Homo sapiens: one gene and its partners. The protein of the gene in region 3 purifies or fractionates together with the protein of the main gene of each other region. This does not show direct contact. Each region holds a gene or a part of one and is shown on either strand. Other genes may lie near its edges.

Region 1 (3,747 bases), on a different chromosome or scaffold from region 3:
GGGTGAAATCATCTTTAGAAATATGCTTTTCCGGCCAGGCACAGTGGCTCACGCCTGTAATCCCAGCACTTTGGGAGGCCCAGGCGGGTGGATCACGAGGTCAGGAGATCGAGACCATCCTGGCTAACACGGTGAAACCCTGTATCTACTAAAAATAGAAAACATTAGCTGGGTATGGTGGCGGGCGCCTGTGGTCCCAGCTACTCAGGAGGCTGAGGCAGGAGAATGGCGTGAACTTGGGAGGCGGAGCTTGCAGTGAGCCGAGATCGCGCCACTGCACTCCCAGCCTGGGCAACAGAGCAAGACTCTGTCTCAAAAAAAAAAAAAAAAAAGAAAGAAATATGCTTTTCCGTGGGCATAGTGGTGCATGCCTGTAATCCCAGCTACTCGGGAGGCTGAGGCAGGAGAATCTCTTGAACCTGGAAGGTGGAGGTTGCCGTGAGCTGAGATTGCACCACTGCACTCCAGCCTGGGTGACAGAGTAAGACTCTGTCTCAAAAAAAAAAAAAAAAAAAAAAAAAGAAATGTGCTTTACTCAATTTTATATTTGTAATTGTTTTAGAAAGATATTTAGAAAAGTATCTTTCTCACTACATCTTCGAGTCATGCAGGCACTCTGAAGAGCTATACTGTGTTTACCTTGGTACCCCAGTGGTATATCAGGACAAGCCTGGGGGCAAAAGAAGTTCATGGATCCAAGTTCCAGAAAGATATTATAAAGAAACTGCAAATTAAGTTGTTCACAAGTCATCACCATAAGTTATCTTGTCGTAAGTGTATGTTTTATAGGCAAGTGGCATCATTTTTGCAGAAGATACCCTCAGCACTTTGTTGGCAACACATCAAGGAGGATATGTCTGTTGCCACAGGACATCCAGAGGGCCAGCTGTGTCTGCTTGTCTGACGTGGATCGTAGGAATGAAAAAACTAAAAAGAAAACATCACTCTTTGCTTAGAAGACTATAATTAAATATAATACTTAAGGTATCCCAAGTGAAGGGATCAAAAGCCCTGGACAAGAAGAACCTACTAACTGTGTTCCTAACCACAACCTCAGCATCTGCTGAGTTAGTTCTTGTTCTCATCTGCCACACACACTACTTGCCTGGTAATAGTATTTCTGCCACAGAAAGTGCAAAAGATTTGTTAAAACTCTGGACAGAAGTCTGAACTACACAGTCCCCAGCATCCTTTATCATCATCAACCAAGTGGCTATTCTTTCTTTGTTTTTGAGACAGGGTCTCACTCTGTCACCCAGGCTGGAATGCACTATAGCCTTGACCTCCTGGGCTCAAGCAATCTTCCTGCCTCAGCCTCCTGAGTAGCTGGGACTATACCATGCCTGGCTAATTTTTTTTTTTTGGTAGAGACTGGGTCTCCCTATGTTGCCAGCTATTCTGAAAAGGCGCCTAGAGACGTCCCTGACGCTGGTCACGGTAGAAGGGCTGCCAATACGCTTGGCCAAGAGGTGCTCCCTGCTGAGCAAGCACTGCATTGGACAGCAGTGGGTGCATGTGTGGAATTACTCAGGTGAGAGATTTCTGATGTCTTGCTTCAACTTACACAGGACTGAAGACTTAAGAGACTCAGCTGTGTGTTGCTCTGGTTGCATCTCTGTGAATGTCTGGTTGGCCCTTCCTTTTCTAGCCTGCAACTGCTATTCCCGCCTTGTCTGTGGGCCTAGAGCAGAGTGGCCTCGGGCCACTTCATCTGAGGCCTCATGGACCACCCAGGGTGTGACTGCCATGCAGACCGACCACAAAAGCCTTTCTCCAGGGGGAAATGGACGATGACAGTAACAAGCTGCTCTTTTAAAGCCAGGCAGCCCCTGGGAATGGGAAATCATATCTCCTGCTGTGGTTTGAATAGGTGTCCCTCCAAAAAATTCATGTTGAAATTTAATCCCCAATGTGGCAGTTTTGAGAGGTGGGGCCTTTAAGAAGTGGTTGAATCATGAGTGCTCTGCCCTCATAAACTGATGAATCCATTCACCAATTAATAGATGAATCGGTTATCATGGGAAGGGAATTGGTGGCTTTACAAGAGGAAAAGAGACTTGAGCTAGCATGTTATCATGCTCAGCCCCCTCACGATGGTCCTGCATCACCTTGGGATACTGCCAAGTCCCCACCAGCAAGAAGGCCCTCACCAGGTACAGCTCCTGGACTTTGGACTTCTCAGTCTCCATAACTGTAAGAACTAAATTCCTTTTGTTTAATAAACTACCGAGTTTCAGGTATTCTGTTATAAGCAACAGAAAATGGACTAAAACACCTCCTAAGGCTCCCCAAACTTTAAAATGAAGGAAGCAGTCATGCTTGTGCAACTGCAGCTGCTGGTGTGGAATCACCTAGAAATTCTTCCTCCATGGAGACAGCCTATTAGCTAAGGAAAAAGAATCTATGGCCGTCAGAAGGCAGGGTGATTTAAGGTTAATGTCTTGCCACTTCGGAGTTCCTCCCGTTGGATGGAATCGGGTTGACCAGTTTCTCTGCCTCTAACTGGCTATTTTATGGAAGGTCTGTTCATTCCCTGTTTCAAAGCAACAAGCGTAACAGCAGAACATCTAGGAGTCCTGTGCCAAGAGATTCCTTTTTCCCACATGATCTGCCAAGAAAGGAGAATTCCAACTTATGAGTCTCATTAACAAGGTGGAGAAATTTCTTCTTCGCTCCATTTCAAAAGCAAATAAACTTAAGTAATGAAAATGCTAAAAGCAGAAGGCTCTGGTGTTGTATTAGTCTGTTCTCATGCTGCTAATAAAGACATACCCGAGACTGGGTACTTTGTAAAGGGAGGAGGTTTAATGGACTCACAATGCCACATGGCTGGGGAGGCCTCACAATCATGGCAGAAGACAAAGGAAGAGCAAAGGAACATCTTACATGGTGGCAGGCAAGAGAGCATGTACAGGGGACTCCCATTTATAAAACCATATCTCACGAGATTTACTTCTCAGGGGAAAGATCTACCCCCATGATTCAATTACCTTTCATCGGGTCTTTCCTACAACACATGGGAATTATGACAGCTACAATTCACAATGAGATTTGGGTGGGGACACAGCCAAGCCATATCAGGTGTTGCATATCTTCATTGGTCAAATGCAGAATAAAGTCATGCATAAACTAAGGGCTTCAATGGGAAGCCTATATACCCCTACTTCTCTGTCATAGGATTTGAGGGCTTCAGCATGAAGGTACCAGCTGTCAGAGTACTCAGGTGATGCTCAGAGAGGGGAGATTGTCCTCTACTAGATTTCTTTCTGGGGCCTTTGTTTCTTCCAGGAATCCCAGCAACAGTCATTTCACTCATCCTATTTTTACACCTTGGAGTCAAATAATGAGGAAGTACACTGCTCTCTAGTTCAGAGAGGGCAGCTCTGAGCCCTTACAGTTTTGCAATGAGCTAGGAAACAAACCCTGGCTTCCTGATTTTGCAGTTCATTTATCTCAAGCACCAAATGTCCAATTACTAATATTTACACAGGGATTTCTGACAGCAGGTGTATAGGAAGTGATAAGCCCAGGATGAAGCCTGAGCCAAGAAGAACTCTTCAGAGAGCAGCTGAGAGTCCACGAGTAACATGGAGAACCAGAACCACCGAAGCCCAGCCATGAGGAGGCTGGGTTAGACCCTGGCTCCCTGGGTCACCAGCTGTGCCCTCTGGACAGCTTATCTGTTTATCCATTTCCTCAGCTGAGAAATGAATTTGAAAATACTCACCTAACTCTTTAGTGGGACCT
Region 2 (3,403 bases), on a different chromosome or scaffold from region 3:
AGGAGGATGTGGGGAACCAGGTGAGCGGCTCCTCAGGCCATGCCCTGTGTGGCTGGACACCAAGTATCATGCACCCCAGGAAGGGGCTGCCGGGGGCGGGAGGACTGATACGTCCCTCCCGGCAGCCCAGGCCTGCGTCCTGTGGCCGCATCTCCCTGACCTCAGCAGCCCCTCCCAGGGCCCAGCCCCGAGACACTAAACACACCGTCTTTTTCAGGGAGCACTCGGGGCCCCCTTCCCTACCTCCCTGGTTGTGACCCGAGGCTTCAGGTCTGATGGCAGTTTCCACCGCAGGAGGGACCACCTGCCCCAACTTTCAGCCTACAGACAGGTGGGAGAAAAGTCTGGGGTGCAAGCCGCTCTGTGGGAGGCCAGGGAACGAGTGTGGGGTTATTTCCAAGTCGGGAGGGCTGCATCTTGAGGTCTGGAATGAGGTACTTCCCGTTCCTTCTCCCGGGCTTCCCGTTTCCGGGGTCTCCCCACGGGCTGTGCCTTGAGACACATTCCGGCCCCCAGCGCAGGCCTCTCTCAGCCGCCAGCCTGGGAGAGGATGAGCTCTTCTTGCCTGTCCACCCGGGCCTCCCTGTCAGCCCCTCCACCTACTGGACACAACTTTCCAGAATAAAAGGACATCTCTGGCACCAAGCAAGGGTATCTGACAGCAATAGATTTATTAAGTATCCCCGAAAATATAAACACAAACCAGTAAAAAACAAAACCGTAAAACGTCAGGCCTGGAGCTGCAATAAGACAGAGACAGGAGCAGCTCACACGTGGCCTAGGTGGGGAGGACGAGGCCATAAATACTGCAGGAGGGCGGCAAGGGAGCCCTAGGGCGAGGGGAAAGCAGGGTGTCGGCAGCAAGATGGCTCCGGGGGTTTAGACACTGCTGGCTTCGGCCCCGGCCGCCACCTGCCTCTCACTCCAGCTGCGAGCAGCTTCACTTGGGGCCCTGGGCCTCCGACTCCTCCTCGTCGTCTTCGTACATCTCGCCCTCTTCCTCGGCCGTGGCGTCCTGGTACTGCTGGTACTCGGACACCAGGTCGTTCATGTTGCTCTCGGCCTCGGTGAACTCCATCTCGTCCATGCCCTCGCCCGTGTACCAGTGCAGGAAGGCCTTGCGCCGGAACATGGCCGTGAACTGCTCGGAGATGCGCTTGAACAGCTCCTGGATGGCCGTGCTGTTCCCGATGAAGGTGGAGGACATCTTGAGGCCGCGGGGCGGGATGTCACACACGGCCACCTTCACGTTGTTGGGGATCCACTCCACGAAGTAGCTGCTGTTCTTGCTCTGGATGGCCAGCATCTGCTCGTCCACCTCCTTCATGGACATGCGGCCCCGGAACACGGTGGCCACCGTCAGGTAGCGGCCGTGGCGCGGGTCGCAGGCGGCCATCATGTTCTTGGCATCGAACATCTGCTGGGTGAGCTCGGGCACGGTCAGGGCCCGGTACTGCTGGCTGCCCCGGGCTGTGAGGGGGGCGAAGCCGGGCATGAAGAAGTGCAGGCGCGGGAAGGGCACCATGTTGACGGCCAGCTTGCGCAGGTCAGCGTTGAGCTGGCCCGGGAAGCGCAAGGAGGTGGTGACTCCGCTCATGGTGGCCGATACCAGGTGGTTGAGGTCCCCGTAGGTGGGCGTGGCCAGCTTGAGGGTGCGGAAGCAGATGTCGTAGAGCGCCTCGTTGTCGATGCAGTAGGTCTCATCCGTGTTCTCCACCAGCTGGTGGATGGACAGCGTGGCGTTGTAGGGCTCCACCACCGTGTCTGACACCTTGGGTGAGGGCACGACGCTGAAGGTGTTCATGATGCGGTCGGGATACTCCTCACGCACCTTGCTGATGAGCAACGTGCCCATGCCGGAGCCCGTGCCGCCCCCCAGCGAGTGGGTCAGCTGGAAGCCCTGCAGGCAGTCGCAGTTTTCACACTCCTTCCGCACCACATCCAGGACCGAATCCACCAGCTCCGCCCCCTCCGTGTAGTGACCCTTGGCCCAGTTGTTGCCGGCCCCACTCTGACCTGTACAGGGAGAAGAGGGGTAAGAGACAGGGGCCAGGGACTCTGCAGTCCAGACCTCCAGCCCCTGCCTGAACATCCCAAGGGCAGCCGTGGCAGCCCCATGCCTGTTCTGTCTTCTGTAAAGTAGGCCCCACTGAGCACCCCTTCTCATACCCGCCGTGGCTTCCCTGAGCCGATGCTGCTGAGTGCTCAGGACGAGGGCTCTGGACAGAGTCTTGAGAACTTGGGGTCACAGCAGAGCGAGGCTCTGCCTCCTGAGGGGATCCTGGGTGAATGGATCAGCCCTCCTGCTCCAGCATACCTTCCTTCCGACTGGCAGTGCCAGGAGCCCAAACAGCCACCCCAGAATCCCTGGCAGCTGGGGGCTGGATGCGAGTTGGCATCTACCAGCTGGATGTGCTGCGGTCGGGAAGGCAGAAGTGAAGCGAGGCCCTCCTGTTTCTGTGGCGCGTCCACGGCCCCGCCCCAGGACACAGACATGGGAACGTGGCATCCACGGCCCCGCCCCAGGACACAGGCATGGGAACGTGGCATCCACGGCCCCGCCCCAGGACACAGGCATGGGAACGTGGCATCCACGGCCCCGCCCCAGGACACAGGCGTGGGAACGTGGCATCCACGGCCCCGCCCCAGGACACAGGCGTGGGAACGTGGCATCCACGGCCCCGCCCCAGGACACAGACGTGGGAACGTGGCATCCACGGCCCCGCCCCAGGACACAGACGTGGGAACGTGGCATCCACGGCCCCGCCCCAGGACACAGACATGGGAACGTGGCATCCACGGCCCAACCCCAGGACACAGGCATGGGAACGTCCTGATCTCTTGACCGCAGCAAGGCCTCGTGCTCCTGGACCCCGGAGTCCTCTGGAGGCCCCGTTCTGTCTCACCAGCTCTCTAGCAATTCTGTAAGCTTCTGTCTGCTTTACACTTCATTCCACTTGAAATGCATGAGTGGTTTCTGTTCTCCCCACAGAACCCTTTCTCTGGGCCTCCAATGCCCAGCTGTAAAATGGAGAGATGAGTTCCCACCATTCAGGATCATGTGAGGAGCTGACCATTCCTTGTTTCTCACAGCCGTCCCCGTCCACCGACCTGGGCTTGCCTGTGATGGGGTCTGCCATCAGAGCTTGGAGCAGGGGGAACTTACCAAAGATGAAATTGTCAGGCCTGAAGAGATGTCCAAAGGCCCCTGAGCGGACACTGTCCATGGTTCCGGGTTCCAGGTCCACCAGAATGGCTCGAGGCACGTACTTGTGAGCTGAGGGGAGAGAGGGGCTCGGTGATTCGGGTCACAGAGGGCCAGAGCCTCTCCCTCATTCTTTCTGAATTCTGTGCCCGCCTGCCATCCTCCTGCTCACATCCTAAGAGCCTGTACTCTGAAGTC
Region 3 (3,747 bases):
GCTGACACTACCCATCCCCATCTCTAATCCCCTTACCAGCACCCCTATCCCTGAGCTTCTCTCCATCCATCTCCCCATTCCCAGCCCCCCACCCCGGCACCGCCCCAGCCCCCGCACCCACGGCTTGAGGCAGTGGGCTGCTGTCAGGAGCCATCTGGGGGCGATGAGCGTCGCCCCACAGAGTAGCCGCGTCTTCTCGAACAGGGCTGCCTGCCAGGGCTGGGAGTGAGGCTTGCACTCGAACCCCTTGATGATCCTGGTCTCTCCCCCTACAAGCCCTGGAGGGGGTGAGAGCAAAAGAAGGGGCTCAGGAAGGAGAGGTGGTAGACCAGGAGGACTCCCAGAAATGGGGGTGGGGAGGAGAGAAAGAGAGTGGGTGGTCTGGGCCCTGGTCTGGTGTCCCTCTGGGTTGCCCTGGATGCTGGGGTCGGGTATTAAAGGATGAAAATACTTCCATAAGGTCAAATGCAGTGGCTCATGCCTGTAATCCCAGCACTTTGAGAGGCTAAGGTGGGAGGATTACTTGAGCCCAGGAGTTCTAGATCAGCCTAGGCAAACATAGTGAGACCTCCTCCCCCATCTCTACAAACAATTAAACAATTAGCCTGGCTTGGTGGCAGGTGCCTGTGGTCCCAGCTACCGGGGAAGCTGAGATGGCTTAAGGATCACTTAAGCCCGGGAAGTCAAGACTGCAGTGAGCCGTGTTGGCACCACGGCACTCCAGCCTGGACAATAGAGCAAGACTTTGTCTCTGGGAAAAAAAAAAAAGGAAATACTTCCATACTGGTTGGTCAGTAGCCCCTGTCCTGGGCGCTTTGAGTGACTGCTCCCCCAACTCCAGCTTCCTCAGCCCCTCCACGGGACCCTTTACGACCCCCTTGACCTCTCCTCCTTTGGCATTTAAAGGGATTATCTAGAAGGGCATCCAGGCCCTCATGACCACTGCTCCAGTTCAGGTGCCTTATGGGTTGTTCTGTAATTTGGAATCAGCCCTGTCACTGTCCAGACACAGAGGGTTAGGGGATCCCAGAGATTCAAGAGGGAGGATCCTGCCCTGCCCCCATCCCCTGCGTACCTGTTGCCAGAGCAAGCAGGATTAACTGCAGAATCCTCATGGCCTGGAGGGGGGAGGAGCGGGCCCCAGGTTCCTCTGGGAACAAGGAGGGACATGGGGCCGCATCACTTTACGGGGAAATCGGGAGGGGGGGGCTGGCTCATGCCCTCTCCTCTCTCCCTCACCTGCTCCCGCTCCCCACTTGGGAGAAACAAGGTTGGGGAAATCCCCTGTTTCTCACAGCACTCAGATCTCCAAACACTTAAAATATATCTTAGGTGTCTAGGGTGGCCTTGGAGAGGGCCTGGTCACAGCTAGAAGCTTCCGAGATACCAAGAACCATGTGGAAGTCGTTGGGAGGGGCTTTGAGCTGTCAAGCCATGGTTCGGCCCTGTTCAAGTCAGCCATGGGACCTCCCCGGCACATGTCAGAGGATGTTTTCCTTCTTGCCTTGAGAGCTGGCCAGGCCCCAGCAGCTTGGGGTGGAAGGACAAGGGGAACCAGACACCGTTCCGTAGCCACCCCTTTTTCATTGTCTTCGCAGCAGAGCGATATGGAGCCTTTGAGGTCTGCTGGAGGGGAGTAGGGGGCTCAGCCCCAGACAATGTCTGGGACCCCCATCACCCGGCTTGCTGAAGCCCTGTCCGCCAAACCCCTGCCCTTTTGAAGGACAGCCAAGCAAAGCTGGGCGGGGCTGGTCGAGGGGAGGGCCAGTGCCCTCCGCTGCCCTGGCCAGCGGGGGTGGGAGCAGAGGGCCAGCTCAGCAGCTGAAGCCATGGAGATTAGAGGTAACTGAGGCTGCGGACAGCCATCGGAGGTGAGAGGTGTAGAGAGAGGCCAGGAACCCCCACCCAAGCAGAGAAGGACAGAGCAGAGGGAGAAATGGGTGCCCGAGTGGGACAGGTGTCCTTGGGGAGGGCTGACACCTGGACGGGGAGGGGCAGCTTCCCTTTCCTCCTGGACTCACAGGCTCTGGGGCTGGGGCTCTGGGGGCCCAGTGGCGGCGGAGACGGCAGTGGCGGCAGCTACAGCAGGTAGGCTGGGTTGGAGCGCCAGGTGCCAGGCACCAGGCAGGCGGGCTGGCAGGGGGGCGGCCCTGGGCGGGCCCAGGATGACTGGCCTCCAAGCCCTGCCTTAATGCCCCGGGGCGGGGTGTGTGTGAGGGCCCTCCCCGGAGGCCTCTGAGGCACTGGCTGCCTGCCTGTGCCACCTCTCCAAGCCCCTCTTCTCCCTGTGTCTCAGCCTCCCTCTGTCTGTCTGTCTGTCTGCAGCCTTCCTTTCCCTGCCCTGAGTCTCTGAATCTGTGTCTCGTTCTATGTGTCATTCCCTGTCATTCAGTAATTCTGACTTTGTGTGATTTTTCTCTTTCTGTCCCTATGTGTCTGTCTGCCTTTCTCTGTCCTCGTCCCTGTCTCCATCTCCACTCTTCTCTCTCTGTCTGGCTCTGTGTGGCCCTTTCTCTAATTCCTTCTATCTTTGTGTCTCTCAGTCAGTCTCTCTGACTGCATCTCTGGCAATTTGTCTTGAAATCCCTCTTCTTCCATCTAATCTCCGTCTCTCTTTTTCCTCCCGTCCCAGCCACTCCCTCTCCACAGCCCCAGCCCAGGTGGGCCCCTGGCCTCCCCTAGGCCGCTCCCTTCTCCTTTGCAAGGAGAGGGGGGGTGTGCTGGGATGTCACACAGGTGGGGCTGCTGCCAGGCACAGGGGCAGGACCGGAGGGTGGGGGAGGCAGGTCAGGGCCTGTGGAAGCCGAGTCCAGGAAAGGGAACAGAGCCCTTGGCTGTGCTCCACCCCAGGGCTCCTCTGGGGCCTCGCTCCTCTGCTGACCCTTCCCCTGCCCGCTTCTCCCTGCCGCCCAGGCAGCCCGAGTCCAGCTGTTCACTTACTGGCTGCTGTGAGACCTCTGCCCGATGACTTCCAGTCCCGCAGCCACCTCAACCTCTGCATCTGCGGAACCCGAGCGCAGATTCCTGCTTCTCCCAGCTTGTTTGTTTTCAGTTAGGTCCCTTCCCTTGGCTTTCCTCCCCTCTCTCCCCTGACCAGGTGTGGAGCAAGGCAGGGGAGGGCCTAGGTTCTGACAGCAGCCAGCCCTGGCCTCAAACCTAGGTGCTTCCTCTTCCTACTACTATGACTACCCTTATGACGTGGGGACAAGGGACTCCACCCCTGCAAGGCTCAGTTTCTTCATCTGAGAGATGGGGGTGACAGACCTGCTTGCAGGGGAGGTTGGGATCAGGCTTCCAGGAGGGTCCACTTGGAAAGAGCAGACTGCGGGGGGGCTCAGCAAATGTGCCTCCGCTGGTATGATCACCCCTCACTCCCTCCCTCCTCCAGTTTCCCTTCAGTGCATTTGGGGAGATGGTCTCTCCTCACCTCTTGAGTCCCAGTGGAGACAGAATCCAAGGGGTGGGCAGGAGGATTAAAGACGTAGGCTGAGCTCTCCTGCTTTCCAAGCCTGCACTCCACCCTTCGTCTTATTAGAACAAAGCCACGTCCCACATTAAAGATACAATGTATGCTTCATTACAAGAAAGTAAACTGCAGTTGGCTAGTGGAAAGAATGCTACGTTTTATGGACATTGGATTAAATGGTCATAAATGTTGACTTTGCAGCTTTCATCTGGTATTTTGGAGCTAACAATTTTCTTTTTCTTTTTCGGGTCTTTTGTGGACTCTTGAAAAGCTTATAAGCT

The links.
Region 1: the proteins of KLK11 (region 3) and LOXL2 purify together in Homo sapiens (affinity purification with mass spectrometry; 3 studies listed by BioGRID and IntAct, with this or other methods). This does not show direct contact.
Region 2: the proteins of KLK11 (region 3) and TUBB3 purify together in Homo sapiens (affinity purification with mass spectrometry; 3 studies listed by BioGRID and IntAct, with this or other methods). This does not show direct contact.

What each region holds. Positions count from the first base shown.
Region 1 is NC_000008.11:23,397,465-23,401,211, forward strand, and holds part of LOXL2 (lysyl oxidase homolog 2 precursor), read right to left. Parts: intron 1-3,747. UniProt on the Homo sapiens protein: Mediates the post-translational oxidative deamination of lysine residues on target proteins leading to the formation of deaminated lysine (allysine).
Region 2 is NC_000016.10:89,933,342-89,936,744, reverse strand, and holds the end of TUBB3 (tubulin beta-3 chain), read right to left. Parts: intron 3,278-3,403; coding exon 3,167-3,277; intron 2,017-3,166; coding exon 941-2,016; 3' UTR 648-940; downstream 1-647. UniProt on the Homo sapiens protein: Tubulin is the major constituent of microtubules, protein filaments consisting of alpha- and beta-tubulin heterodimers. Microtubules grow by the addition of GTP-tubulin dimers to the microtubule end, where a stabilizing cap forms.
Region 3 is NC_000019.10:51,024,517-51,028,263, forward strand, and holds the start of KLK11 (kallikrein-11 isoform 1 precursor), read right to left. Parts: upstream 2,101-3,747; 5' UTR 2,022-2,100; exon of another isoform or gene 1,981-2,021; intron 1,627-1,980; exon of another isoform or gene 1,505-1,626; intron 1,183-1,504; exon of another isoform or gene 1,151-1,182; coding exon of another isoform or gene 1,116-1,150; coding exon 1,076-1,115; intron 279-1,075; coding exon 122-278; coding exon of another isoform or gene 118-121; intron 1-117. UniProt on the Homo sapiens protein: Possible multifunctional protease. Efficiently cleaves 'bz-Phe-Arg-4-methylcoumaryl-7-amide', a kallikrein substrate, and weakly cleaves other substrates for kallikrein and trypsin. Cleaves synthetic peptides after arginine but not lysine residues.